Linked DNA regions of Homo sapiens. The protein of the gene in region 2 purifies or fractionates together with the protein of the main gene of each other region. This does not show direct contact. Each region holds a gene or a part of one and is shown on either strand. Other genes may lie near its edges.

Region 1 (7,536 bases), on a different chromosome or scaffold from region 2:
GGGTTGTAGCGGATGCGAGGGCTCCGGGAAACAATAGCATGCTCCATGCTGTTGATGACATCTCTGACTCTGGGCTCTGCCACCTGCATTATGTTTTTTAACTTGTCAGTATCTGTTTGAGGGCAGAGAGGGGAAAAAGGCTCTGTTATTCTTCATAAAAGATGGCTTCTTCCGAATTCCATCCAAGTTCCCTTTCCATCAGATCCCTGATCTAACATTTCAGGCAGGTCCGCCACACCCTCCAGGTGGTCCCTTATACAAACACACATTTATAAGACTATTATAAATAATCTTAGCCTGGCCAACATGGTGAAACCCCATCTCTACTAAAAATATAAAAATCAGCTGGGCTTGGTGGCACATGCCTGTAATCCCAGCTACTCGGGAGGCTGAGGTATGGGAACCACTTGAACCCAGGAGGCTGAGGTTTCAGTAAGCCGAGGTCACACCACTGCACTCCAGCCTGGGAAACAGAATGACACGCTGTCTCAAAATAAATAAATAAATAAATAAATAAACAAATAGTCTTATTTATCTTTCTGAATTCAACAATTGTGCATTGAAGTCCTACTATTGCATTAGACTGGTGATGAGAAGAACTGTGCACATTCTCCTTATAACTGTGCCGCTTATTAGTTATATGACTTTGAGCTTAAACTTTTATTGTCTATAAAATGGAGATAATACTATCTTTCCTAAAGTTTGGGCATAGTGGCTCAGGCCTGTAATCCCAGTACTTTGGGATGCCAAGCCAGGCCAATCACCTGAGGTCAGGAGTTTGAGACCAGCCTGGCCAACATGGTGACACCTTGTCTCTACTAAAAATACAAAAATTAGGTGAGCGTGGTGGCGCGTGCCTATAATCGCAGCTACTCAGGAGGCTGAGGCATGACAATCACTTGAACTCAGGAGTGGGAGGTTGCAGTGACCCAAGATCGCGCCACTGCATTCCAGCCTGGGCAACAGAGTGAGACTCCATCTCAAAAAATATCTGTCCTGGAGAATAACAAAGATGATTAACAGCAGGGTAGACACTGGGGGAGTACAGAAGAGCAAACATGATGGGAAAACAGCCCTTTTTTTTTTCTTCTATGTACTTCCTAGAGTTCCCACATTTAAACAAAAACATGCAGGAGAAAATATTATTTAAAAATAGTAATACTGCCCCTACCTCAGTCATAAGGCCACTGTCACTCAAATAATCTAAGGCATAGACAAGCACCTCGTGGGGCCCTCACAAATGTGAGGAGTTGTTCTGTTTGCATTGACCCACAGGGGTGGAGATGGGGACAGAGCACCCAAATAGTACAAGTCTGCCAAAGTTCATGACATAAATGGGAGAAGGGCCACACCACACACCCACCAGGCCCTCATCTGCATCCTCACCCCAGGACAGGGGGATTCATGCTTCATTGAGAGCCCTGAGGACTCCAGGGAAAATGATGCTTCAAAGTCAGACTGCCCTGATAAGGTATGAAAACTTGAAAATGGAGAGGAAGCCAAAGCTGCCCTGACTTTGAGAATGGTCCAGGCAGGCAAGGAATTCACCCGCTTGGGGCCAGGACCCTTGTGGGTGGTTGGTGAGAATGGGGCAGCATCACTTCAGTCCCCTTCACCCCAGACTCCGAGAAACTCCATTTTCTGTTTCCTGGAAAGAAAACTGATGCAGGGGAAAAGCCAAACTATATTTTGGGATCTCAACAAGAGCCACACTAACTCAAAGCCAGACTGTCCATAAAGCAGTAATGTCTTAGGAAGCCACACCCTGACCTCTGACCGTAGAGCTGGCACAGAGGCCACCAGCAGCAGGGCTGAGGGTCGAAGGAATCGTTCAGGATGCCCAGGAGGCTCTCTCTGCCCCCTCGGCGCCAGGGAAAGCTTTGTGGGCTGAGGATGTGGAGCAAGCTGACATGGTGAGATGGGCTGGGGACTGGGTTCTGAGAGGTGGGGAGGGCTTGCACAGGCAGTGGGGTGGGAGAAGTTACCCCAGACATGGGGAATGGTATGAGGCACTTGCTTTCATTGTTTTCTCAAATAGATATTAGCTGCCATTCAGTGCTGGGCACCCTGCTAGGCATGGAGTAGGATGGGAGACGGAAGGACCCATCCAGCTTTGTCACTCTCCTTCACAGTGAGGAAGGACATAGGCTTTGGAGCTGGGCACCTGGGAAAATGTTTTTGTTATTGGGAGAATTAAGCAGGACAAAATCTATAAAGTATCAGGCCTGGTCCTAGGGGTTACAAGCCAGGGGCCTGTTTGGTCAGTCACAGCAACTGGCTGAGTTTGTACCCAGCGATGCTCTAGGACTACTCCTAAATATCTCTTCTGTCTGTCACATAGCCACCCCCCACCACCAGAACCATCAGGACTTACAACTTCATGTCTTTATCGTTCCTTCACTGGGTTTCTGCAGTAGTCCCCCAGGTGGACTTTTTATCCTTCCCACGGTGACACAAATCTGATCCTTCATTTCAGAGCCATTTACAAGGCTCTCTAATGCCTTTAGGATAAGAGCCATGCTCCCTACTATAGCAATCAAAGCATTTCATGATCTGACTCCTAATCTCTCCCCTCCTCAATCATCACCCACAGCACTCCTGCCAGACTATAATGGCAATGGCAAAGGTTTGTTCAGCTCTTACTGTAGCAGAGCTGAGTACTTTGCATTTCTGTTTAATTCTCCTAACAATCCATGAGAGAGGAATTGTACTTTATAAATGGATAAACAAGTTTGGAGAGCTATACAACATGATTAGAGGGACTGCTGGAATACAAGCCTGAATCTGCACTGCCTCCAAAAGCATACAATGCTATGTCAGGTCACTAAAACGTTGCTCACACCCTTCCTCTTGTGTGAAACATCCGCCATCTCTTTCCCTTTTGGTGTACTCCTATTCATCCTTCAAAACTCACTAAGGCATTAACTGTCACCTCTGTAAGGCTTCTGTGACAGCAGAATGAAGTCTGCATTGCTGCTTTGTTTTGTATGCATGTCCATTATAGCAAGATTCTTCATGTGGTGGTGTATTTGCTTTCACATCTTCCCTGCTAGTTTCCTGGAGAGTGTCTCATCTCTGAATCCCAATAAACACTGGGCAACTGAAGCAAAAATTCTAGTATAACCACTTGGGAAAACGTTTATCTAAATGTAGTTGACCACTGCCTGAAAATTTTCCTCTGAAATTATGGTGTGGACTACAGGTGAATTGGCCTAAGATATTTTATAAACCCAATCCTTACTATTCTTTAGTACAATACTAGCTTTTGGACAAGGTTTTCGGAGGAGTTTGCCTTTATACATATTCTTTCATGGACCACACTAAAGATGCTACAAGCTCTCTTCACCCTGAGTGCTTACTTAGAAAATGACTTTGTGAGGTTTCCAGACACTGGCTGAACCCATTTCACCCCAGCCTCCAAGCAGCTCCACAAATAATTTGAACTACTCTTTGCTAAGAATGATCACACAGAGGATAAATATTCTTCCCCACACATGCTAACATCTTCTCTCCTTGTTCCCAACAGCTGCAGATTTCCCTCTGGGGACCTATGCCTCCCCCACACTGTGTCCATTGGTCTGGGCAGAGCACACAGCCCAGCCTGAGCCAATCACACCTTCACATTCCCCTGGGCGCAGTGATTGGTTTAGGGTTGGGTGCATCTTGTGGTCCCCCATGACGCGGTCACCATAAGGTCCTCCAAGTCGGAGTGTACATTAGGACTTTTGGGAGAGGTACTGGAAATAACTCTCCTATTTTCCCAGCAGACCTCACCCTAGGTGGAGGTGAAGAGAGGCTGCAGCAATGTGGCTCCCACAGGGGAGAGAGCTTAGAGACTGGAGTCAGTGCAAAAGAAGCAGAGCCAAGAAATGGGTGGAACCAGGTCCTAGCAACATCATTTGCAGTCTGGGTCAGGTTGTACCTGAAGCTTATCTTGCTCAACTTTTTAGTCAGGTGAGGCAAGAAATTCCTTTTCTGCTTAAATAATTTGCATTGGATCTTCTGTCACTGAGTAAGTCCCAACTAGTGTAAATCCTTAGACATTTTCTTCTCACAGAATCCTAACATGTCTAGCACTAAAAGATGAATTTATCTAAGGAGTACTCCAAACATTTTTCCCTGAGACTTCCCTAAATCAATGAATGAAGACACCTCCATTCACCATGTTCTTCAAGCTGTAAAGCTAACACTCACCCTTGATAGCTTCCTCTCCCTCACCCCTTAATCCTCAGTGTGCTTTGATGCTCTAATTTATTCCGTATACCCCAGCTACCTCCCATTGCTTCCCACCTGCTGGTTTCTTTAAAGTTCCTCAAATGGAGTTTTCTGCCTCAGAGCCTTCCTGCAGAAAAAAAGTCCCTACGCATCCCCTCTTTCCCCTTCCCAGCAACACCTAACTCTTATTCCTCCTCAAAGTCAACTCAGAAGCTCTCCCCTTCACCATAGTCTGAATTGGGACCGCAACTTCCTGCTCCATTCTTCTTTCACAACCCTGTTTCTCCTCTGTAGCACTTATCCACATCTACCATAAACACATGTGTTTTGATTTATGTTTGTCTCCCCTACTGGGCCATAAGCTACAGGCAGTGAAGGGCAGGCATACTGCTGTGTCCGCTCCAGCTCTCCAGCCCCACACAGGCTTGGGACATGGCAGCCTTGCATGCTTTGTATTACTGATTCAAAACAAAAACAAAAAACAAAAATGCAATAAAGTGTGTATGTATTAAGTGAAAAAAATGGCTGACTTGGCTTTGTGCTCTGTTGACGTACGACATCCAGCAGACAACTTTCGTGGCAGAAAGTTTTGGGGCAGCAGGGTAAACAGCTGCCGTGTCCCACCTCTACCCTCCAAAAACACCTATGATTCACAGGAGACCCTCAGCTCAGGGAAAGAAAGAGAGTTGCCTAGAGACCCTCCCTTTTAAATCCCCATGTGCTCATTTTCTTCTTTATTAACAAGCACTCAGAATGTGCAAAGTACTTCACACATACTAACCCTCATAACAACCCCATGAGGGAGGCACTATCTTTAGCTCCATTTTGTAAATAAGAAAACTGAGGCATGGGAAAACTAGGTAATAGGTCCAAAGTCTCCTAGCTGGTAAGTAGTAGAGCCAGGATTTGAACCCAGGCAGTCCGGCTCCAGCAGCCATGCCCTTGATCTCTTTGCTGTATTTATCTCAGTGCATTTTCACCTGATTCCCCTGCATCATGATGCTGTGGGGGCAGGTGCCAGGAGTGGGCTGAATTGCCCTTAACTCCCCGGGCTGCTCCAGAAGTGATGATTCTGCCACTTGCTCTCTATTCTCAAACCCCAGCTGTGCCACTATGTGACCTTGGGTCCTGAACTCCTCTGCATTTTGTCTCACCATCTGTAAACGGAAAGCCAGCTAATGACCCCAAGACCCACTCGCCCCCCTCAGAGACCCCTCTCCTGCCCCAGGAACTTACAGATGCGGAAATAATCCTCTCCGTAGCTGTCCCGGGTCTCCTGAGGCAGCCTCTCCCAAAGCTTTCGCATGCGTGACTCCAGGTTCTCCTTGCCGAGAATGGCTGTCCGATAGTTCCCTGGCTCAATGATGCAGACTTTCACCCCAAAGTAGTAGAGCTCACGCCTGGGAAAGAAGAGTTGCAGTCAGTCTGGGCCCCAAGATGACAATCATCACGGAGAGTCACCTCTGGATGGGCTGGTCTTTCAGGAACCTAGAGATGCTTCTCTCACCCCTGTACTTGGCCCTGGCATTGCCTTTGTGCAAATAAGCCCTTCCTTAGGGACTCAGCCCTTTCCAAAACTGGCCCAACAGTCTCTGGGCAATTTGCATTAGGCACAACCAGCGGGAAGAAGTCAATAGAGAATCTAGGCCAAAGCCTTGCCTCCCACCAGGTCCCTCCCATTAGCAACCCCTCACTCAACACCCACACGGTGAATGGTGTGGATATACACAAGGCCTGCACGCTCCTCTAAGGACCTCCCAGAGGGGACCTGTGCCTCCAGGCCTGTCTGTCTGTTTGGGGGACTCTCCCTCCTCTCACAGGCCCAAACAGGGTTTCACTCACCCTGGTGCCGCTCAAGGGAAGGCCCACCTGATGCCTTGTATTTCCACCCTACCTCTTCTCCTCATCCCTGCTCTTGGTCCTTGGAGAAAGCACCTTGAGGTCTAACCTTCCTTCTGCTATTGTGTTAGCTTCCTGTCTGCGGAATTCCCCTGCCCACATGCTGTCACTCCCAACCCTCTCTAATCTCTGGGATTTTCACCCAGAATTGTTCAGTACCAGGGCCCAGTTACCTTATGCTGTCAGAGAAGGCCTCAACGCCAAACTTGGAGACGCAGTAGCCACCACCAATGACAGCCACACGACCACCAGAGCTGGACATGTTGACAACCCTGCCCCGGGCTCTCTTGACCATGGGCAGCATGTGAAGGGTCACTTCGATCAGTCCCACCAGGTTCACATTAATCACCTTCACAAAGTCATCCTTGGTCAGCCATTCGTTGGGACCACTGGGCAGGCCCACACCAGCATTGTTCACCAGGGCCCAGAGGCCTGGGGGTGAGATGAACCACACAGAAATCATCAGTGGGCCTGGGAAAGAACCAAGTTCTGCTCCCCACCGGCTCAGTGCCCTCAAGGATGGTTGAGCAGGTGCACAAGACATAACTCGGTCAGGCTATAACATAAAAGGAAGGTGTGTCTTTTACTAACTCGTTTTCCCTGAAGGGACACTTTTTCCTGATTCACATAAAGTCTGCCGGCTAGCTGGCGCTCTGTACTAGCTACAATCGAGGTGTTAGGTGACAGCATTTCAGCTATCAGCTTTGGGATAAGAGTTTCATTTTCATACCAATGAATTAATGTTTAGATCCCTTCCCCATCATACTTCTCCCTCTCTATTCACTTAAGTATAACCAACTGCATTTCACATACTACCAAAATCAATCCATTCATTCATTCATCTTCACACATTTATTCATGCATTTATCTAGTCTGTGACAATTACAGGGTGAAGGAGGCCAGGTGCAGTGACTCACACTTGTAATCACAACCCTTTGAGAGGCTGAGGTGGGAGGATCACTTGAGGCCAGGAGTTTGAGACCAGCCTGAGCAACAGAGTAAGACCCCTGTCTCTACAAAAAAAGAAAAAAAATTAGTCAGGCGTGGTGGTATGTGCCTGTAGTTCTAGCTACTTGGGAGGCTGAGGTGGGAGAATCACTTGAGCCCGGGTTACAGGTTACCTTGTTCGAGGTTACAGTGAGCTATAATGGTGCCATTGCACTCCAGCCTGGGTGACAGAGTGAGACTCTGTCTCTAAAAATAAAATGAAATAAAACGATATAAAATAAAATAAAGTAAAATACAGGGCAAAGGAGACATAAAATGAACAACACAGCATCTTATCCCTCAAGGAACTCACAAGCCTAGAAGGAAATAATAATATTTATAAATAAATATATAAAATATTTAAATAAAATAATTATGGAAAATGTGATGAGGACTATCCTTGAGATATTTCAATTAGGTTGGTACAAATGGAAA
Region 2 (8,129 bases):
TTATGAGCATCCTGGGCAAAAATAGCATTTTACCTTTGCCTTTAGCTGCAGCTACCCCCAAAAGCCCTCTTTAGTGTTTGCAAAATAAAAAGCTATCAATCACAATTCAAGGTATGGATTTATTATGCTATAAATATCAACATTTAAGAATACGCAAATATGGCCAAGTTATGCTAATATAAAATTCTCTTTTAACTAATTTACCAAATTTAAATATAATATTGGGTACGAAAAAGGAAAAGAAGTCTTGTTAACTTACTATGTGTGTCAATATATCTTGCTTTGTCTTTTTTGCCACCAAAAAGAGCAGCAGCTGCTTTCTTAAAGAAATTCTTAGCTGGGCTTGATAAGTGGAAATCTGGAACTGTATGACAACAGCTAGAAGACAGTCTGTCCGGAGTGAAGCCCTGTGGAATATTAGAAAAAGCCTTCAGTAACCTGTCAGGTAACTGGGATCAATACCAGGTAATTAAAAAAAAAAGATAGTGCACCAACCTGCAAAAAAAAGTCATGTCGAATGATGTCATCCAAACTGGGACGATCCTCTGGGTTTTTGGACAACATACTAGCAATTAAGTGCTTGGCAGGAGCCAGCAATGAGGACGGCATTGTATACCTTGCTTCCCTTATGCACCTATAAGTTTCTTTGAGATTTGTAGTTTCAAATGGGGGCCTCCCTAGTAACATTGTATACCTGTGTGCAAAGAAACACATCTTTAGCAATGGTCATAAAGCAACTCTTTTCAAGTGTTAAAATCTAAATCCGAATTTGCTTTTTAATTATTCTGCTGCATTTACTTACATTACACAGCCCAGGGCCCAAATGTCTGATTCACAGCCATGTCCTTGTTTGTTGAGGACTTCAGGAGAGAGATAATTTGGGGTACCACATATCGTTCTGGAAAGACAAAATATTGAGATCGTGTTAGGAACTATTCCACTACTTAAACTTGGTTCTCTTGACATGACTTGATGGGAGACAAAATCTTAAACAAAATCTTAAAATCTATACTGAATTTCTATTTGGAAACATTTGACTTTTGGCATCTGAAAATTCAATTGAGATCTGACCAAATGAGTTTTGGTAATTTTTAAAAATGCACACACGTTGTTTTAGCCCACATGCAAAGTGTTGTTAACCAACTAAAGCCAGGGACGTCGTGGCATTTTATACATTTTAAGCCAAGAAAAGACTTCATTGACTGCTTTCATAATCAATTTAGAGGCACAGGGTGCTCTGTCTAGTCCATAGTGGGCATTTAATAAGTATTTCTTTAAATTAACATTGCTATGATTTATAGATTTTATTACCGGACCTCTGAAACATTAAATGCAAAATAATGAAGGCATATTTGGTCTCCACAAAAGTCTACTAGGATGCATCTTTCTGACTCTTACCTCCTTCTGTGTTCCAAGGGTTCTAGCCTGGCTGCCAGACCGAAGTCCCCAACTTTTAGTTCCATGGCTTCATTAATAAAAAAGTTCCCTAGACGATAAACAAAACAAAATGTGAATCCCTTTGAAAATGCGTTCTAACCAAGTACACACACATCCACTTTGGAGCCAGGCAGCCAATTGTTATATGAAAGTCGCCCATTCAAAAGCAAGATTGCAGACACGAGATCCCAATTAAGAACATTAATATGTAAAAAAAAACAGAGAGAGAAAAAAGAACTCTAACACAAAACTCAGCTTTTGGCGTCAATGACTTACCTAGTTTGAGATCTCTGTGCAAGATTTCTTGTTCATGAAGGTATTTCAGTCCAGACACAATCTGCCTGAGGTAGTATCGAACTTCTGGCTCTGTCAACACCTTTCTTGCTTTCAAAATATGAGCCATTGACTAAGAAGAGGAGAAGGAAAAAAGAGAATCTGTCAAAACAGTTATCAAAATCACTGGTTTCCCTTTGCAGGATGAGCAATGAAAGTTAACTTTGCAGTGTAAGTGCTGCCACAGCTAAAATCCCAGATAAAATACTCTTTGAATACCATGTTAATTCGGGGTAAGCAAATGTTCTCAAATAGGAGTTGACACTTACCCTTCTACTGCAGTATTCCAAGAGAATGTAAATGTTTTCTTTGTCCTCGAAGTAGTGGTAAAACTGCACTACATGCTTATGATGAAGAATTCTGTGAAGCTCTATTTCTTTGTCAATCTAAATGAAAAAGCAAGGTAAGGCTTATTAGCTTCCAGTCACCTCGGAAAAGCCAGTGATTACACATGCAGAAGACATTTTCCTAACAGGGAAGGGCCATCCTTGCACACAAAGAAAATACTTTACTCAAGAGTCATACGCACCTTTTCCCTTTGATGAGGTTTAGCTACTCTGCTGTGAGGAATAATTTTTGCGGCGTAGACTTTGTTATTTGTCAAATCTGTCATCTCGTAACATTTTGCAAAGCCACCCTGAAAGGAAACAAAGCCGAGACGGAATTGAGGATGGCACAAAAATGGACGGCAGATATTTTAAATAAATAAATAAATGGGAAGAAAGAAAAGCAAAAAAAAAAAAATTGAGGAATGGAGGAGGGTGGACAGAGGGAGGCATTCGACTTCGTTAAAGCTCCCTCATGAAGAGAAATGCATTGCTGGAAACAGCAAGTTCAAACAGTTTCTCTTCTTCTTTTATAAAGGGGAGCTTTATGGAGGGAGTTGGAACGGGGAGACATGAAAAATAATCTCTGATGAGACTTGTCAGGAAAATTCCCTGGGAGCAGATAGAGGGAGAGAGGTCTGATGTAGAAAGCCCTCGCTTCCAGACTCAAGATGCATTTCTCTGGGCTGCGGGAGACACACAGTTCTGAGGCTAAGAATGCAAAGCCGATCCCCAGCGCTGCCGGCGCACAAAAGCCAGAGGGCAGGTGAGGAGCCCACCTCGCGCTGGGATCGGACCCCCGAAAAACCCGGAAGCGGCGGGCGAGGGACCCCGCGGGCTTGCCCGGCTTGGGGTCGCCCGGACAGACCTCCCGCCCGCCCGGCAGCCCGGCGCCCTCCGCTTGTCACCTTTCCCAGCACTTTGCCCCGGCAGTAGCGCTTCCCAGTCGTGGGGTCGACGATAATCCGCGAGATCTCCGGCCCCGAGTGCGAATGGTGGTGATGGTGGTGAGGGGCCGCCGGGGGCACTTGCGCCTGGGACTGAGGTGGCTGCGATTCCTCGGGGGGCTGCGGCGGCCGCTTCTTCTTCGAGTCCGCTCCGCAACCCTTGCCCAGCGCCTGCTCGCACATTTTGGTGCTGGCGGCTGGCTGGTAGGTGATAGTCCGCAAAAGCTCCATGGTCGCCTTGCCGCCCCGCACTGCCCGCTGCCACCCCCTAGGCGCGGTCACACGTCCGAGCCGGCCGTGGTCCTCGCACCCTTGCCTCTGGTGCCGACTAGCACCCAACACCCCGGTCCACTTGTGCGAGTGAGAGCGCTCGGCGAAGTCTTATATACGGGGAGGCGGGAAGGGGGCGGAGACTCGATACGCGACATCACGTCACGGCCTATGCCCCGCCCCACGGCCGGCCGAGCGCGCGTGGCCGGGAAGCAAGTCTTGTCCCGCCACCCGGGTCTCGCTTCCCAGCGGAGCCGCGCGCCTCAAACGCCGGCCGCCGAGATCTCTTGCGGCCGCGGGAAGGCCTTCAGAGCCGTCCGTGGGCCCCGCTGTCCCGTTCTTCGAAGGCTCCGAGCCTCAGCGTACAAAACAGAATCGCGAGGGCCGACGCCTGGCCTCACCCCCGCCCCAGCCGCCTGGTGGCAGGGCAGTGCCGTGACCCGAGCGAGTCGGGCGCGGGTGTAGACGCAGTCCCTCCCCCGCACAGCCCTTCCCGGCCGCCCGGGGCCTCCTGTGTCAAGGTATCAGGGTGCCCGGAGCCCGCCGCACGGGCAGGCGAGGCCTCCTCCGGCCGTATGACAGGGCTCGTCTGCAGCTGCCCCGCAGTGCCTGCCCGCGCTGTGACGAGCTCGCTGGTGTCTAGCTGGGGCAGTGCCGAGAGGCCGTGGGGGTGAAAGGCCGGGATTCGTGGAGCCGGGCATTCGAGCCCATCGCGCTAGGGCAGACACGGGCCCGCAGCCGGGATCCCGGGCCGATCGGCCAACCGTGCCAGGATCCCACTCGAGGCCCGTCTGGCCCCCGCCCATGCCCCTAGAGCGAGCCTCTGTCTGAGGTCGGCCCCTGAACCTTGCAGAGCGAGGTCGGCGTCCTGGCAAGGCGTCCTCCGCCCGTAGCCCGAAGATTGGAAAGCAAGGGCGCCATCTTGTGGAATGTTCCGGAATGCCGTTAGGTGTCGAAGTGGGCAGCGGTTGACAACCGTGGGCCTTTGACAGTTACTAGTACTAAACATCGATGCCGATTGTGAGTTTCCAATCAGAGTCATCTATGACTTCTTCCGAATGCATCTGTTGAGATGGCTCATGAGCTGCCCTGGTTCCTGGAGAGTCAATCTGAGACTTTCTGGGGTAGGGAGATTGGTAGGATGAAGAGAGGAGCGTAGGCCAGTGAGTGCAAACACAGCTTAGTTTCCCATTTCCAGATTTTGCTGTGCAGTTTGACTAATCTAGGAACACGTTTTTTTGTTTGTTTTTCTTGTTCTAATTACGATAGAGTAACATTTATTGAGGACTGTGCAGTATTTTTAAATGCCTTATTTCATCCTACAACAATTCTGAGAGAAATATTGTAAGGAAGGAAAAATAATTTTCCACCTTTCAAAGTTTTGGCCTGGGTCGCTGTAACCAGACAGATTAACAAGAAAACAAAGAAGCTTATTAACATATACGTCTCATATATACATGGGAGATAACCAGGAAAATTAGAGATGGTTTAAAATCGGGCTTAAATACTATCTTTAGCTAAACCAAAAGAAAAGAGTGGGGCAGGCAAGTTAAGGAATCATGACCAGGAAATGTACGGTAAACAGGAGTGGGGTTTCTTATTTCTTCATTGATAAGTTTTTCATGATTTAGAGTCATTCTTCCTGGTACAGAGGAGACACTTTTACAAATGGAGTTTTGTGGGGTTTTTTTGTTTTTTGTTTTTGTTGTTTTTTTTTTTAGTGAATGTACGTTTCCCTTACGAAAGGGTAATATGCCATTTTTAGAGCATTTCCTGGGTCTGCTGGTTCTCAAAATAATTATCTTAAAATAATCTTTATCCCAGGGCCATATTTGGGGTGGCATATTCTCATCTCCTACATTATTATTCCCATTTTATAGATGAGGCTTGGAGAACTTAGGTAATTATTGTATATTTTTACTAGATCATCGAGGTTAGGTTAATTAGCAGCACACTTGAATCTTTTTACCTATGTTAACAGGATATGGTAAATAGTTTTTTGAAGCTAAATTCCAGAGAAATTTAGAATACCAGATTATTGAATCCCTGGAAGGTACATACAAAAAGTTGCTGCAGTCCACTGTCAAATTTAGGTATGTGTGGTATCAACATTAATCGAACATTTACAAAAATACTGTGTCTCAAATACTTCCAGCATAATGTGGAAAAGAGGCTTATTGCCATTAGAGAGGAGAAAGGGAAAGGCTTTGCCATTAGCGAGGAGAAAGGGAAAGTCTTTGCTGTCACTTCCGTTTTTGATTCTTTAAAGAGTGCAGGGCAAGTCCAGGCATGTTTCTCATAAGTGACAATAGACTTTAACCCCAAGATTGTCAGGGATGGAATAAGGGGTGGGGCTTAGGGGTGGAAATTCAGAATTACGTAATTATCCTCTTTATTCATAAGCCCAGGGGTGACCTTTGCTTCCCAGATTTGTGCAAACCTACTCTCTAAGATGTAGAAGGCTTGCAGGTTTAGAAAATATTACTAGAATTTATCAAAGCTAGTTTACACACCATGTCTTTATGGTTGATAATAAACTGTATATGTATACATATGTGTGTATGTGTATGTGTATTCATTTGTGGCCTAAGATAAAAAACTGAAGAATAGATTGTCATGATTTTTTTTTAAATGTCAATTTCTTCTTTGATTAGCATACACTATGGTATGTATCTTTACCAAATGGACTTCAGTATTTGATAAACTGTTGAACATTCCATGTGAAATTCAGGTCTGTCTGCCACAACATGGAGGCATTTAATAAAATATTAACGCTGTGTAAATCTTATGTTGTCTTCTTTCCGACTGAGAACATGATTTTTTTGGGGTTGTGGTGCCATCATGTGGACAGAACCAAAATTGTAGTCTATAGAACAAAAAAGGAAATAAATGCGCTTTCTATTAAGTAGACTAATTACTAAATATCATGGAGTCAATTTGGTAACCAGTAGGAAGGAAAAAATGGATCCATGCTTCATATCTGGCTTATTTTCAAGCAAATGAAAGTTTGAAATACGTGAAATTTTAAGACAATATGAAAGAATTCTTTCATAGCCTGAATGTGGTAGAACTTTCAACTATTTACAAAATCTAGAATCCCTAAAAAAAAAAAAAAAGCAAGATTCATTAATGTAACTATATAGAAACAAAACCCTTTCATTGATTTAAAATAACAAAACACCACAAATAAAGTCAAAGGATAAATAACACTGGAAAAATTATTTTCAACTCATCACAGAGAAAGAGCTTATCTTCCTGTTATATAAAAACTCCTACAATTGGATAAAATACCAATTATCCAACAGAAAACAAATGGTTCTTACATTTGCTCAATTTCACTCTTCAGAAGAGAAATTGAAATGAAAGATATACTGAGGCACCCTTTCCTACAAAATTGGCAAAACCCTCAAAAGTTGCCGTGAACATGCTCAACTGCTGAAGTGTTGAGGAAGCAGCACTCCATATATTGCTGTTGGGAATGGAAATTGATATAATTTCAGTGAAAAGTAATTTGGCCAAATCTATCAAATTTAGAAATGAATGTATTCTCTTACTTAGGAATTTATCCTATGGATATAATCTCATATATAAAATGATGCATGACACATCAACAAATGATAAAAACCCTGGCCAAATTAAGCCCAATTCTTACATTTGTCAATAAGTTTTTATTTAAAAGAACCGTGCCCATTTGCCGGGATCTAATTAAACTAAAGAGCTTCTGCACAGCAAAAGAAACTATCGTCAGAGTGAACAGGCAGCCTACAGAATGGGAGAAAATTTTTGCAATCTATCCATCTTACAAAGGGCTAATATCCATCATCTACAAAGAACTTAAACAAATTTACAAGAAAAAAAACAACCCCATCAGAAAGTGGGCAAATGATATGAACAGACACTTCTCAAAAGAAAACATTTATGCTATCAACAAACATGAAGAAAAGCTCATCATCACTGGTCATTAGAGAAATGCAAATCAAAACCACAGTGAGATACATCTCACGCCAGTTAAAATGGCGATCATTGAGAAGTCAGGAAACAACGAATGCTGGAGAGGATGTGGAGAAATAGGAACGCTTTTACATTGTTGGTGGGAGTGTAAATTAGTTCAATTGTGGAAGACAGTGTGGCCATTCCTCAAGGATCTAGAACCAGAAATACCATTTGACCCAGCAATTCCATTACTGAGTGTATACCCAAAGGATTATAAATCATTCTACTATAATGACACATGCACATGTATGTTTATTGCAGCACTGTTCACAGTAGCAAAGACTTGGAGCTGACCCAAATGCCCATGAATGATAGATTGGATAAAGAAAATGTGGCACATATACACCATGGAATACTGTGCAGCCATAAAAAAGGATAAGTTGATGTTCTTTGCAGGGACATGGATGAAGCTGGAAACCATCATTCTCAGCAAACTAACACAGGAACAGAAAACCAAACACTGCATGTTCTCATTCATAAGTGGGCATTAAACAATGAGAACATATGGACACAAGGAGGGGAACATCACACACTGGGGCCTATCAGGAGGTGGGGGCCTAGAGGAGGGATAGCATTAGGAGAAATACCTAATGTAGATGACGGGTTGATGGATTCAGCAAACCACCAAGGCACGTGTATACCTATGTAACAAACCTGCACATTCTGCACATGTATCCCAGAACTTAAAGTATAATAAAAAAATTTTTTTTAAAAAGACTACACATTGGGTACAGTGTACACTGCTTGAGTGATGGGTACAGCGAAATCTCAGAAATCACCACTAAAGGACTTAATGTAACCAAATACCACTTGTTCACCAAAA
Region 3 (7,513 bases), on a different chromosome or scaffold from region 2:
CTCCAAAAATTTTTTCAATATATTCATTGAAAGAAATCAGCATATTAAGTGGACCTGTATAGTTCATACCCATGTAGTTCAAGGTCAACTGTAATATCTAGTGTAGGTGTGCAGTAGGCGGTAGCATCTAGGTTTGTGGAGGTACAGTCTGTGATGCTCACACATTGGTAACGGCGCCTAATGATGCATTTCCAGAATGGTCCCCTCCATGAAGTGATTCCTGACTGTATTTGTGTCTTTGGGTCTGAATTGAGTCTCTTTTTTTTTTTTTTTAACATAAATAGAGATGGGGTCTTACTATGTTGCCTAGGCTAGTCTCAAACTCCTGGGCTCAAGCTATCCTCCCACCTCAGTCTCCCAAAGTGCTGGGATTACAGGCATGAGCCACCACTCCCGGCCAGTACTTGGATTCTTTCTTGTCACAGAAAGTTCAGGAGGCTGGGTGTGGTGGCTCACGCCTGTAATCCCAGCACTTTGGGAGGCCAAGGTGGGCAGATCGCCTGAGGTCAGGAGTTCAAGACCAGCCTGACTAATATGGTGAAACTCCGTCTCTACTAAAAATACAAAAATTAGCTGGATGTGGTGCCACGTGCCTGTAGTCCCAGCTACTTGGGAGGCTGAGGCAGGAGAATTGCTTGATCCTGGGAGGCGGAGGTTGCAGTGAGCCAAGATCGCACCACTGCACTCCAGCCTGAGCGACAGAGCAAGACTCCATCTCGGGAAAAATGAAAGAAAGTTCAAGAGACAGACAACGATAAGCACAATAATTACCACAGTTTTACACAATCACCTTTTCACCTCTCCCTTCTTAGCAGCAATTTCGGGGAGGGCCAGCCTATGGCCTGGTCTCTCATTTTCTTACCAAACCTACAAGGGTTGGGGGGTGGTCTCTTGTCATTGCATTCTGCAGATGATAATCAGTGACTGACACCCACTATCTCATGTCATATGGTGCCCCACTATGCAGCTATGCAGCCTGCACTGTGGAGCAGAAACATCACCCCCTCACTCCACCTTCACTGGCGCTCAACACACAGGTGCATGGAGGAGTCCGACGTGCCCTGTTGTGTGGCGCCATCACCTGTGTTTGCAAGATGAGGACAGGACCCCAAAAGGGAAGGCGACAGCCTTCCCAGGTCGGGTGGCCAGCCTCTTGGACCTGCTCGTCCAATTCAGGGATGATTGCTTTCTCGGTGCCTCCCTGGCCCCAAGGGCCTCAGAGATTCTAGGTCAAGGAGAAAAGCTACTGAATGAAGATTCTTATGCTTACCAGGGCTGTAGCCAGCAACTGCAGCCAGGGTGGAGGGTACCTAGGATTGGTTTGTCACTCAAGTGCCGAACCCTAGTGCTTAGATCCGGGTGCTTCAATGCGCACACACCCCAGCTCTGAGACACCCAGCAGGTGAAGAAGTCGCCCTGTGGCTTAGTTGGACAGAACAGGCTCCAAAGTCTGAGGCCCAGGTTCAAGTCCCACTGATCCATGTCCTCAGGGAGCATGGCAGCCCTCACCCGCCCGCTCATGTGGTGGAGTGGGCCTGGGGGAAAGGGACTGTGGGCATGCTCTAAGGCAATCAACCAGATGCTCAGACTTCGGCTCCTGCGTCTCCCCAACAGGGCTCCCCCACATCCCTCAGTGCCCTGTAAACCAAGGAAGGACTAAGAGTGCAAATGTGGGCCATTCTTAGCGGCAAAGCCCGAGTGTTGATGAGCTGGAAGGACCCAAATCTTTTCCCTTCCCAGAGGGCCCGCTGCACCCCTTTGCTCACCTTCTCCCCCGGGAAGCACCGCACCGCCCGAGGGGTGGTGGTTTCTGCCACCCGGATGGGGCTGTTGCAGCATCTTTCTATGTGTCAGTGTTACTGGAGCCTGCCAAGTTCCACAGCTGATGCCAAATTAAATGTCAGCTGCTCTGAGGATGGTTGGCTGCCTCCCCTGAAGGAGCTAAGGGAGTCGCACAGCTGAGTCTTACGCCAGACTCTGAATCTGTGCGCGCTTACACCTGGTGTCTGTTAGCAACGGAGCTGCCTTCTGAGAGCCCGTTTGTGCGTGCGCCCATGCATGCTGCCCACATGCCGTCTCAGCTCTCTTGTCTCTGGCTCTGCAAATTCCTGCCCTGTCACTCGTTAGCTGTGTGACCCTGAGTGAGTCCCGGAACCTCTGATTCTTGGTGTCCACATCTGCAATGTGGTGGTGCGTAGAGCCTGGCTGGAGAGGTCACAAGGACGTAAGATGCGGGGGTGCACGTGGCAGCACACAGCGGGACCCCGAGGCCGTCACGTACCACGTGGCACTGACAGTAATGATATGAGGTCCCCGTGTGCCTGGAGTGTCATGAAGGTGTGAGACTCACAGCACACCCCAGCGCAGGAGCGAGATCGGGGTGCACCTGTCAGGCTCTGACTACCCTGTGTCTTTGGTTTCCAGTTCAGGACCTCAAGGGGCTCGGCTATGAGAAGGGGAAGCCTGTGGGTCTAGTGGGCGTCACAGAGCTTTCAGACGCCCAGAAGAAGCAGCTGAAGGAGCAGCAGGAGGTAAGACTGCGGGGACAAGGGGACGGGGACATGGTCGGCGCCCATAGAGTGTTGTCCTCTACCCCCGGGTGCAGCGGTCACAGGGGTTCATGTGCTTCGCCAAGCTCCTGTGTTCAGGTGGAACCCATGGCCAGCGGGGAGGCTTCCAGGCAGGCAGGTCCCCCTGCCCCAGTAGGTGGCATGCCACCCCCCACTGCACCTGAGTGGCCTCTCAGCCTGCCTGGGAGACCACTGGCCCTTGGGGCGGCCCCGGTGGTCTGTGATCCTGGCCTGAGCTTTGTGGCTGCTTCTCGCCGCGCTCCAGGGCTGGTTCCCATGGGAGAGTCTACGTTGATGTTCTTTGTCCGCAGTCCTCTGTCGTGTCTAGTGCAGGACCATCCTGGTCAGCACAGGGCACCCTGAGGGACTTGAGGCCTCCCAGTTGTAGTTGGGCAGTGTCGGTGTTGGCTCCCCTGAGGAGCTGCAGGCGCTTGCCTGTCAGTCCCTGGGGTCAGCTCGCTGTGACCCCTCCTCCAGGCCCGCAGCCCCGTCACATCACCCTTGACCCTCCCAGGGGTCAGGACCCTGAGTCACCCTCATTCAGTGGCCAAGAGGTCCTCCGTGCTCCACACTGGGATTTAGAGAACCCAGGGCAGTACTCAGTACTTGCTAGAGTCCTTGCTCCAGTCCTGCCCAGGGGTCCAGATGAGCCACGTTCCGGCGGGGGATGCCCAGCACTGGAGGCGGGGAGCAGGAGCGGGGCTCCGGCAGGCCACAGCACCGTGCCCTGGCTCACTGGCGAGTGTGCCCTGCAGATGCAGCAGATGTACGACATGATCATGCAGCACAAGCGGGCCATGCAGGACATGCAGCTGCTGTGGGAGAAGGCAGTCCAACAGCACCAGCACGGCTATGACAGTGATGAGGAGGTGGACAGCGAGCTGGGCACCTGGGAGCACCAGCTGCGGCGCATGGAGATGGATAAGACCAGGGGTATGTGGGGCAGCGGGGTGGGCCGGGCTGGGCTGGGCATGGCCCCCCTCACCTGCCCTGGAAGGTTACCTGGATGCGCCACACGTGGTCTTGAGCTGCCATCCTGGTTTAGCCCCCAGCCTGCTTCCTGTGGCTGTGAGGCCTGGAGTGAGAGGCTCAGTCTCTCTGGGGCCTAGTTTTCTCCGTGGTGAAAAGGAGCAGTCCTGACATCGTGAGGGTGGAGAGCTGCACAGGGTTCACTAAATGCTGGGCTGCCTCACCAGGCAGAGGCTCGGGCTGGGGTCATGGCCTAGCCGCCTCCTTCCCTGGGGGCCCCAGGCTCCCACTGAGCCTCATACCTGTGCCCTGGGAGCCACCAGGCCTGCTCCCCTCCTTCCTGCTTCTCCCTCTTCTCACCTTTCTGCTTCTCTGAGCAGAATGGGCCGAGCAGCTGACAAAGATGGGCCGGGGCAAGCACTTCATCGGAGACTTCCTGCCTCCAGACGAGCTGGAAAAGTTTATGGAGACCTTCAAGGCCCTGAAGGTGAGCCAGGAGGGGCCCTAGCTCCAGCCTCTGCCACATGCCAGCCCCTCCTGTAGCTGCCTCACCCTGCAGGTGCCCAAAGTAGCCTGGCTACCCTCTCGATCACAGCAGGAGCCAGGCCTTTTCGCTGCAGGAGGCATCTGTTAATGACAGGCGCCGTCTGTGTAGGGAATTAGCAAACAGCAGCTCAGCTGCTGCCTCAGAAACATTTCCTGGGGCTGCGGGGGAAATTTTGCTTCCAGTGGAGCCAATTAAGTGCAGTTTACAGGCAAAGTGTTTCTCCGGCAGAAGTCCCCACGGACTGGCCTCTCCAGAACCAGAGTTTAACATTCTGCCTCTGCTGCTGTTGGGCTCCTGAGGAGAGAGGGCTGACATGGCACGTCCCCCATTATCTTTTTGAGGTTTTTTTATAAAACTGTTCAGGGCCTGATAACCTCATTAGTGAGGTGGTAACCTCGTTGTCCATCTCTTATTAGTACCTTGTACAACAAATTGCTCTCAGGACATGAACACGGGGCTTCTCTTTGCCAGTGAACCATTGCTTTATCTCAGGTGGATAAGGCCTGTGTAACTCATCCTCTTGCCCTTTTGACTTGGCCACCAGGGGTGCACAGTTTGGCACTAAGGCCCCGGGGACCCTGAGAAGCAGGAGGAGCTTGGTCTGTTTGTTCTCAAGGAGTCTGATCTGGTGAGAGGGAGGCAGATGGGCCACTGGTCCCAGCACTGATTGAAACCAAAGGCAGAAGGTTGGATTTGGGGGCCACCACAGCCCCAGCCCTGGTGGGTGACAGCTACCTCCTCACCTTGCAGGAGGGCCGTGAGCCTGACTACTCAGAGTACAAGGAGTTCAAGCTGACTGTGGAGAACATCGGCTACCAGATGCTGATGAAGATGGGCTGGAAGGAGGGCGAGGGGCTGGGCTCAGAGGGCCAGGGCATCAAGAACCCAGTGAACAAGTGAGTGTGGCCTTGTGGGAGGGCATGGCCATGAACTTGGGGTCTGTGGGTCCCCTGCCGCCTCCCCATTCCCACCCCTTTATGTCATCGCTTTTCCCTTGTGGCAAAATGATCACAGCACCCCACTGCACACCCCTTGTCAGGCACAGGCCTGCAGTGCAGGAGGCCATACGGGCTGGGTCCTCCCCAGTCCCAGGGCCTCCTTCCGTCCCCTCATGAGTATCTCCAGGCCAGATGGGGTGGGTGAGGGTACAGATGGGTCAGGCCTTGTCTGCCTTGTGAAGGGCCTTATTTGAATTCCCCATGAGTGCGAAACCACTCCCAGAGATGGGCAGGAGCTCTCCCAGGTGTGACCCTGGCCCCGAGTGCCCCCTTCAAGGCTGTCCTTGAGTAACCATCCTGCCATCCCAAGAGCTGCGACAACTTGCACTGTGGGCTCCTCCTTCCTGTGTGGGACCCTGGGGCCTAGGCCCCCCCCCCCCGCCCGCCCCGGGGGTCTCCCCTCCTTGACCATTCAGGTTCAAGCTTCTCTCTGTGCAGATATGTCCCAGCCCAGCCCTGCACCCGCGGGAGGTGCTGTTGAGAGCCCAGCTGTGCCCGGCCCCCCGGCCAGAGTTCTGGCCCCAGGTCCCTGCTCACATCCTCTTCTCCCTGTAGGGGCACCACCACAGTGGACGGCGCTGGCTTCGGCATTGACCGGCCGGCGGAGCTCTCCAAGGAGGACGACGAGTATGAGGCGTTCCGCAAGAGGATGATGCTGGCCTACCGCTTCCGGCCCAACCCCCTGGTACGCATGTCCTCCTGGGCTGCCTTTGCTCAGTCGACAGGAGAGGGTGGTGGTAGGAACAGAAGGCTCCCTTCCTTCCTCAGTCCAGCCAGGCTGGGTCTCACCAGCGAGCCCCCTACCACCCACCTGCATTCAAGCCCCCACCCGTCCCCCAAGCCTGCCCTGCCACCTCAAGGGTGCGGGCTCAGCTGCCTCCGGAAGGTTCCAGACAGGAGGAACTGCTGTCTTTAGTGCTAATCCCCTCCTCCTGTTATCTGTTTTGCCTTCCACAGAACAATCCCAGACGGCCTTACTACTGAGTGTTCTGGAAATACATACTTTCTGAATGACCAACCGTCCCTGGACTGTGGAATGTTCCGGCCTGCATTTCTGCCCACCCCTTCCGTTGTCACGAGTGCCGTGCCGTGTAATAAAGTCCCAGTGCTCATCCACCACAGATGCCTGGTCCTGTTGCAGGAAGCCCCTCCTGTTAGCAGCGGGATGCAAGATGCTGTCTCGGGGCTCTCCTTATTGGCCTGTGGAGTCTCCATCCCCGCTCAGCCTGGGTTGCACTGGAGGGGAGGAAGAAAGTTGTTTTCAGCATAGTAAAGCTGGAAGGCCAGGTGCAGTGTCTCACCCCTGTCATCCCAGCACTTTGAGAGGCCAAGGCGGGCGGATCACTGGAGGTCAGGAGTTTAAGACCAGCCTGGCCAACATGGTGAAATCCTGTCTCTACTAAAAATATAAAATTAGCTGGGCATGGTGGTGCACACCTGTCGTCTCAGCTACTCGGGAGGCAGAGGCAGGAGAATGGCTTGAACCTGGGAAGCGGTTGCAGTGAGCCAAGATTGCGCCTTTGCACTCCAGCCTGGGCAAGAGAGCAAGACTCTGTCTCAAATAATAATAATAATAATAAAGCTGGAGACTTGGCCACACCTGGGCTAAAGGAATGTCAGGAACCTCCGAGCCTAGCACTGTGCTGCAGAGGGAGGTTGGGGAGGGGTCTCCAGGCAGGGCCCCACCTTCCCTCAGACCTGTGGGGGCAGGTGGCTTCTGGGCACACCCATGTGCTCTCCTGGCAGGTGGTGCTGGCACGGCCCAGCACACAGGTGTTGGCTGTGGCCCTTCAGGTCCCACCAGTGTGGTAGGCACACGAGTCCCTGGGGCTTGTGTCGTTAGGGGACAGCCGCATGGATGCATGGATGTGCCATGCCAACATGTCAGGCAGCTCCTAGAAGGAAGGGCCTCAGAGCCGGAGGTTTTGAGGCAGGAGGGTAGCCCAGGCCACAGTGTGTGCCAAGACCCCCACATCTGCCCCAGGGCCAGAGCCCCACATTTGTGCCTAAGTCACCCTGGGGATCTTGTTAAGCTGCAGCTGCCGAGTCAGCTGGTTGGGCAGGGCCCTGGGAATTTGCATTTCCATCTGCCCCCACCCCCTCCACACACACCCAGTGGGTGCTGCCCAGCCCCTGCAGGCACCAGGGGCTCCCTATTCACATGCTTGGCATGGAGTCGGGCTCCTGGGCCAGCTTGTGTTCACACAGCCATTCAGCAAACACTAGGTGCCAAGTGTGGGGACCAGGTGGACAAGATCTACTCCAGTCAGCCAGGCTGCTGGGGATGAGGTCTGAGGCTGCTACTGAGAGGAACCAGGGAGCCGTGGTGGGGCGGTCTGCAGAGTGTCTCAGTGGGGTCTGAGACCAGGGAGGTGCCAGATGCAGTGGCAGAGCCAAGGCTGGGGTGATATACCACCCTTTGTTCTTTC
Region 4 (7,536 bases), on a different chromosome or scaffold from region 2:
ATATGTTTGTTGCCTTAATCTATACTTGGACAAAGGCAACATTTTAATTTTTGCTAAGTCTTAACTTTAGCCAGATGGGTTGAAATGTAAAATTTTCATCCTCATCTTGCATTGAAAAAATACTTGTGTTCAGTTATGTTCACTTTGTAAGGTCATTAAAGCCTAATTGCTAAATCAACTTCTAAGTATACTAAATACTCTGCTACAAAATATTTCTCCCAAGTAGGATAAATCTATCAAGTATTTGTTGCTGCTATTTTTATTCCCTAAGTCTTTATATCTATGTAATATTTCAATGATATGTTTGCATACCACTATGAAAAAACTTACCTTCCTTACACCTACTACTACCACATTGTGTTATATGTTTTTTAAGAAGTAGGTAGGCTCATTTGGGGAAGGTATGCTTTGAAAGAACAGATTTGCCAAGGGACTAATATGTACTTAGAACCAGAATAGCATACTGTATAATTTAGTGGACTTAGTTATTTCAAAAGATATTATTCCACTTCCCTGCTAAATGAAATTAATCATCACCTTTGACTTTCAAGAGGTGAAAATAGCGTGTAATAAAGCATATCTTTTAGTCATCAGGCCTACTGTGAAAAGCAAATACAGACTGTATATATTATATACTAGCTGTTATTTTTTGCTTCAATTGTATTTTATCTCTTTTGTTAAAAAAACATGATTTCATCTTGTAACTGAACTGCACATATAATATCAGAGAAAATCTTCTAATGGCATGACTTGTAAAATCTCTACCCCAACAAATTAGTTTGATATCTAGGAGTTACCTTATCTGAAACATAATGAGTTATGTTCTACAGTGTCTGCAATCAAACTTTAAACAATCAGGTCCCTCTTTCAGTTAGTATGTTGTTATACTGAATACATGAGTGTTATGGAAAAGATTTAGGTCTCATAAATGGGTGAAGAAATTGTCATCTACAGAACTAATTCATTCCATTAGATTTCTTGGGTAGCAGCATGGTTCCAAATTCTGATTGGCCTTTAGTGATGGAAAAATAACAAAGTACTAATGCAGAGACACACACACAAAAAAAAAACGGCTTTGAGTTGTAATACTTTAAAGTGGATCCATTCATGGCTAGAAAAGAAAAAAAAAGGTTATCTTACAACTGGTTCATAATTAAAGTCATTGTTACTATATGCAAAGTTATGGAAAATTATTTAAATTGGTATGTATAAAACCAAAGGACATGTATTGCACTTTTGTGGCACTCTTTTATATATATATATTCAATGAAACAATGATTTGTCTTTCTTACTTTACTCATGGTATGTTTCAAATGACTTTAAGCAAGAGTGAAGGACAATTAAGTAGATTTCCTTCTTAGTAATATTTAGAGTTTAAATATGTCCAATTGTCTCTTAATAAATATGGATTTTCATCTGTGAATGCATTTAAATATATTCTGACCTTGCTATCAGTATCTATAGATTCTTCAAATATCAATTTTGATTTTTACTGCTGCACATTTTTAATGGAGAGAGAAGTAGTGGCTACTATTCTGTAGAAACTTTATTTGGCAGGTCTTCATATTGCCACCTCTGGGATACATGTGGTTAGGGTTAGTGGCAGCAATTGCTTCTCAGTCTTAACTTTGGGCATCAAATTATCTTTGAGTGGCCAATTTTAAATTCTATGGGTTAATAATTAGTAGTAAGTAATTTTCAGCTAACTAATGACCTAACAAAAACAACATTTCAGAGTTTAAATGCAGTTATTTTTACTTTGGGATTACTAAACATTGGTTGTTTTCATTGATGATAACAACCATACTTAAAAGATTGATGGCTGGATTGTAGTTAAAGAAGGGCTTCAGCTCTAAAGAAACTTTTTGAATTTTTTTGTTGACTCAAATATTTGAGCTTGTTCAACCAAAAGATGTTTCTAGAAGTTATTTAACAGATGTTTAGATGTTTAATTTTATTAACTATACATCTGAAGCATAATTTTTAAATATTTTTCAAAAGGTTCTGCAGAATACTGGATTGATATTTGTATATTTGTCTATTGCTCACCACGGTACACTTAAGCATTTTAAGGCTTTTACTGAAGTACAATAAACATGTAGAAAGAAATGGACATATTATAAGTATTCAAATAAATGAATTTTCCCAAACCGAACATGCATATGTAACCATCTCCCAGATAAAGAAACAGAACATTATTAAGACCTTGAATCTCTCCTTATGCTTCCTTTTAATCAGTATCCATCCCACAAGGATAACCATTTCTTCATTTAATAGCCATAGATTTAGTTTTGCCTACTTTTATACCTCAGTAGTTTGACAGGTAGATAATTTTATCATAAGAAGTCAAAGGCTGTCATTTTCACAATGTTTTAAGTCAGATCTGTATGATTTGAGAACTAGAATCCTCAAACATTTCTCTGTTCATTTCACCAGAAGGATATCACACATTCCTATGATCCCTACCAGTGGCTTACTATTAGAATCTCTTGCACCAGTGTAGGAGTATATAATTAGGAAAAAAACCCAAGAGCATTCTGTTAGCAGAGTTTTTCAACCTCAACACTACTTATTAGGGGCTGGATAATTCTTTGTTATGGGAGACTGTCCTGCACATCGTAGTATGTTCAGAAGCATCCTAGTTCTCTAACCACTAGATGCCAATAACACCCACCCCTCTGGTTGTGAAAACCAAAAATGTCTCTAGACATTGCTAAATGTCCCGTAAGGTACAAAATTGTTGCTGTAGAGAGCAACTGTGCTAGGGAATATATAGTTGGCCCTTGGTATTCATGGGTTCCCCACCAATGATGGGTTGAAAATATTCAGGAAAAAAATCATTTCTGTACTGAACATGTACAGACTTTTTTTTTTTTTTACTGTTATTACCTCCTAAACAAGACGGTATGACACGTACTTAGAATTTACATTGAATTAGTTATTGTAAGCTAGAAATGACTTAAAGTATACAGTAAGATGTGCATAGGTTATATGCAAATATTATGCCGATAAGGGACTTGAGCATCTACAGATTTTGATATCTGTAGGGGATCCTGGAACCAATCTCTCATGGATATTGAGGGACAACTATATATCCCCTATTTGATGATCATTACTTTAAAAGTTAATAGAGCAATATGTAAAAGTTTTAGGGAAGTAGCTCTCAGTCCTTTATAAGAAGGTTTCAATAATCAGTCCCCTTAGCAATGGATTGGACCACTTAGAAAGATGCTAAGGTCCATGTCACCTGGCCATTTTGGAGGATGTTGTAGAAGGTAGAGTAAATATTGGAGTATATGATGTTTAAAGTACTCTTCAGCAACCTCACTATAACTGTGGGATTTAAGGCTGGAGGATGTTACAGTCTAGTGAGGAAGCTAGAAACATCTCTTCTTTCTAAATCCTAATATATATAATATATATATATATAAAATCCACAGGAATAAGTACCACATGCAAGATTGCAAGACAAATTCTATTGAAACATGCCTCTTCTCCATTTTCCAGTTGCCTTCATAATTGTCTATGATATTTGCTACCTGCTTTAGAAAAAGGGAAACTGTTTTGGAAAATTTTAATGGAACCCATTCAATAACTACCGAGCTAGGCAAGAAAATAAATAAAATTAGCATATCACTAATGTTAATCTTCTTCCTTTTGAGGGGCAAAAATTATATTTATATTATAGCTTAAATAATCAATTATATTGCCACATGTATGAATCTTTCCAAAATTTGTTAATTCCCACTGTATATCAATAATGGAAACAGAAAATCTCAAAAGAAAAAAATACTCAAAGTTTTTAGTTCATTTGATATTTTACCTCAATTTTAAAAGGCTGTACATATATCGTCAAAATAGGGCTAAAAATGCCCAAGTGAACTTACACAAGTGTATTTGTCTTCTGTTTTCTCAATCACAATAGTCTGTGTTTCACTACCTGGTGGTATATATTCGTAGTCATCATATAGGAGGCCTAGGATTGGATATTGTGTCCTGTACCTGTTGGCAAGAAAAGAGTTAGTTTACAGGCTGCATGAGAAAATAACTTTCATTCCTTTTTAGTCACTCCTAGTTTGATTGCCCTAATTAAGCCAATTCGGCTCTGAATGACTTTTTAACTGTTACTGAAAAAACAAAAAAATAAAAAAACCCTATTTCAATGGACAGAGATGTACAACCATTATTTTCAAGAAAATAAAATAGAGGGACTTCTGTTTCTGGCCATGATGGACGACTGGCAGCACAGGACAGTGACCCCAGAAAAGGGAAGCAAATGATATGGGCCCTACAAGTGCCTAGCTCACTGCCTGGAGAGATTTTCTTGGTCACGGGATAAGTAAAAGGAAGCTAAACAGATCCCAGCAGTCTCACCAAGATAAGGTGATAAAGTTTAGAGTAAATATAGGCAAAGGCACCCAGAGTTTGTGGGGCAGAGTATCAGACAGAAGAGAGCTACATAGATAGAGAGAGGTCAGGACAGCTGTAGAGGTTTTCCCAAAAGCCTTTGGGTGAAAACTGATCAGTGTGCCTGTATGTGAAGAAGCTACCAAGACTTAGGAAATAATGACTAGAAAGGAGCAGGCTGGCAATTTTGGGAGCTCTCATAGGGATGGTAATGTTTTGTGTTCCACTAACAAAACCAGAGTGAAAAGCTCTCCTGATATAGAGGCCATCAGATAGATACTGCAGAATATTGCCTTAGTAGTGGGATAAAATTAGCCTCAAAGTACAGGTTATTCTCAAAGAGTTTAAAAGCAAGGCTTGGATGTATTAAATTGTTTCCAAATAATTTCATCTCAGAACAAAACTCCAAATATTTTAAGTAATACCCTAGCGAAAATCTAAAACTCAACAATATAAAATCACAATTCATGGCATTCAACGAAAAATGAATAGTCATGCAATGGACGATACGACTAATAATGAAGAGAAATATAAATTAGTAGAAACAGACCAAGAGACAACACTGATAAAAAAATTAGTAGGTAAATGTGCATCTATTAGAAACATATAAAATATACAAGGTATATTCAAGAAGTTAGAGGAAAGCATGAACACAGGAGAGAAATAGATAATATAAAAAAGATCCACATTGGACTACTAAACATTAAAAAAATTAGGTGGAGTTAACAGCAGATTAGGCACTGCATTACAAAAAGACCGATAAATTTTAATACATCAAAATAAATAATTTAAAATAAAACATAAAAGAAAACGGAAAAAAATGAATGCAGCATGAAATAACTGTGGAAAATATCAAATGTCCTCATATATATATAATTAAAGTCCTGCAGGATTGGTGGTGGAAAAAAATAATTGACATAATGACCAAATTATTTCCAAGCATGATGTAAAGCTATAAACACACGTATCCAAGAAGCTCAGTGAACGTGAAAAAAAGAAACATGAAGAAAACTACAGAGAGGCACATCATTATCAAATTCTTGAAAACCAGTGAAAGAGAATCTTAAAAACAGCCTCAGAGAAGAAAGGACATTATTCAAAGAACAAAAATCATAAGATTAACAAAAAACTTCTCAGTCACAATGAAAGTCAGAAGACAGAAGAGCAATATTGTTAAAGTACTTTTTTAAAAAAAATGTAAAAAATCTCCTTAAGCTGATAAGCAACTTCAGCAAAGTCTCAGGATACAAAATCAATGTGCAAAAATCACAAGCATTCCTATACACCAATAACAGACAAACAGAGAGCCAAATCACGAGTGAACTCCCATTCACAATTGCTTCAAAGAGAATAAAATACCTAGGAATCCAACTTACAAGAGATGTGAAGGACCTCTTCAAGAACTACAAACAACTGCTCAAGGAAATAAAAGAGAACACAAACAAATGGAAGAACAGTCCATGCTCATGGGTAGGAAGAATCAATATCGTGAAAATGGCCATACTGCCCAAGGTAATTTATAGATTCAATGCCATCCCCATCAAGCTACCAATGACTTTTTTCACAGAATTGGAAAAAATTACTTTAAAGTTCATATGGAACCAAAAAAGAGCCCACATTACCAAGAAAAACCTAAGCCAAAAGAAAAAAGCCGGAGGCATCACGCTACCTGACTTCAAACTATACTACAATGCTACAGTAACCAAAACAGCATGGTACTGGTACCAAAACAGAAATATAGACCAATGGAACAGAACAGAGCCCTCAGAAATAATACCACACATCTACAATCACCTGATCTTTGACAAATCTGACAAAAACAATAAATGGGGAAAGGATTCCCTTTTTAATAAATGGTGCTGGGAAAACTGGCTAGCCATATGTAGAAAGCTGAAACTGGATCCCTTCCTTACACCTTATACAAAAATTAATTCAAGATGGATTAAAGACTTAAATGTTAGACCTAAAACCATAAAAACCCTAGAAGAAAACCTAGGCAATACCATTCAGGACATAGGCGTGGGCAAAGACTTCATGACTAAAACACCAAAAGCAATGGCAACAAAAGCCAAAATTGACAGATGGGATCTAATTAAACTCAAGAGCTTCTGCACAGCAAAAGAAACTACTATCAGAGTGAACAGGCAACCTACAGAATGGGAGAAAATTTTTACAATCTACCCATCTGACAAAGGGCTAATATACAGAATCTACAAAGAACTCAAACAAATTTACAAGAAAAAATCAAACATCCCCATCAAAAAGTGGGCAAAGGATATGAACAGACACTTCTCAAAAGAAGACATTTATGCAGCCAACAGACACATGAAAAAAATGCTCACCATCACTGGCCATCAGAGAAATGCAAATTAAAACCACAGTGATCTCAGGCCACTTAGAATGGCGATCATTAAAAAGTCAGGAAACAACAGGTGCTGGAGAGGATGTGGAGAAATAGGAATACTTTTACACCGTTGGCAGGACTGTAAACTAGTTCAGCCATTGTGGAAGACAGTGTGGCGATCCCTCAAGGATCTAGAACTAGAAATACCATTTGACCCAGCCATCCCATTACTGGGTATATACCCAACGGATTATAAATCATGCTGCTATAAAGACGTATGCACACGTATGTTTATTGTGGCACTATTCACAACAGCAAAGACTTGGAACCAACCCAAATGTCCATCAATGATAGACTGGATTAAGAAAATGTGGCACATATACACCATGGAATACTATGCAGCCATAAAAAAGGATGAGTTCACGTCCTTTGTAGGGACATGGATGAAGCTGGAAACCATAATTCTGAGCAAACTACCGCAAGGACAGAAAACCAAACACCACATGTTCTCACTCATAGGTGGGAATTGAACAATGAGAACACTTGGACACAGGTTGGGGAAGATCACACACTGGGGCCTGTCGTGGGGTGGGGGGAGGGGGAAGGGATAGCATTAGGAGATATACCTAATACAAATGATGAGTTAATGGGTGCAGCACACCAACATGGCACATGTATACATATGTAACAATCCTGCACATTGTGCACATGTACCCTAGAAGTTAAAGTATAATAAAAAATTTTTAAAAATGACCAGCTTACTCGTCTATACACAACAAAAATAC

What was found.
Region 1: the proteins of PLK2 (region 2) and SDR9C7 purify together in Homo sapiens (affinity purification with mass spectrometry; 3 studies listed by BioGRID and IntAct, with this or other methods). This does not show direct contact.
Region 3: the proteins of PLK2 (region 2) and SUGP1 purify together in Homo sapiens (affinity purification with mass spectrometry; 3 studies listed by BioGRID and IntAct, with this or other methods). This does not show direct contact.
Region 4: the proteins of PLK2 (region 2) and POF1B purify together in Homo sapiens (affinity purification with mass spectrometry; 3 studies listed by BioGRID and IntAct, with this or other methods). This does not show direct contact.

What each region holds. Positions count from the first base shown.
Region 1 is NC_000012.12:56,923,939-56,931,474, forward strand, and holds part of SDR9C7 (short-chain dehydrogenase/reductase family 9C member 7), read right to left. Parts: intron 6,547-7,536; coding exon 6,288-6,546; intron 5,616-6,287; coding exon 5,452-5,615; intron 113-5,451; coding exon 1-112. UniProt on the Homo sapiens protein: Plays a crucial role in the formation of the epidermal permeability barrier.
Region 2 is NC_000005.10:58,456,686-58,464,814, forward strand, and holds the start of PLK2 (serine/threonine-protein kinase PLK2), read right to left. Parts: upstream 3,402-8,129; 5' UTR 3,275-3,401; coding exon 3,005-3,274; intron 2,408-3,004; coding exon 2,300-2,407; intron 2,157-2,299; coding exon 2,040-2,156; intron 1,844-2,039; coding exon 1,714-1,843; intron 1,487-1,713; coding exon 1,399-1,486; intron 899-1,398; coding exon 803-898; intron 695-802; coding exon 496-694; intron 408-495; coding exon 260-407; intron 1-259.
Region 3 is NC_000019.10:19,275,203-19,282,715, reverse strand, and holds the end of SUGP1 (SURP and G-patch domain-containing protein 1), read left to right. Parts: intron 1-2,424; coding exon 2,425-2,531; intron 2,532-3,325; coding exon 3,326-3,503; intron 3,504-3,919; coding exon 3,920-4,026; intron 4,027-4,836; coding exon 4,837-4,982; intron 4,983-5,639; coding exon 5,640-5,769; intron 5,770-6,041; coding exon 6,042-6,068; 3' UTR 6,069-6,683; downstream 6,684-7,513.
Region 4 is NC_000023.11:85,278,316-85,285,851, forward strand, and holds part of POF1B (protein POF1B), read right to left. Parts: intron 4,003-7,536; coding exon 3,888-4,002; coding exon of another isoform or gene 3,864-3,887; exon of another isoform or gene 3,800-3,863; intron 1,112-3,799; coding exon 1,106-1,111; 3' UTR 1-1,105. UniProt on the Homo sapiens protein: Plays a key role in the organization of epithelial monolayers by regulating the actin cytoskeleton. May be involved in ovary development.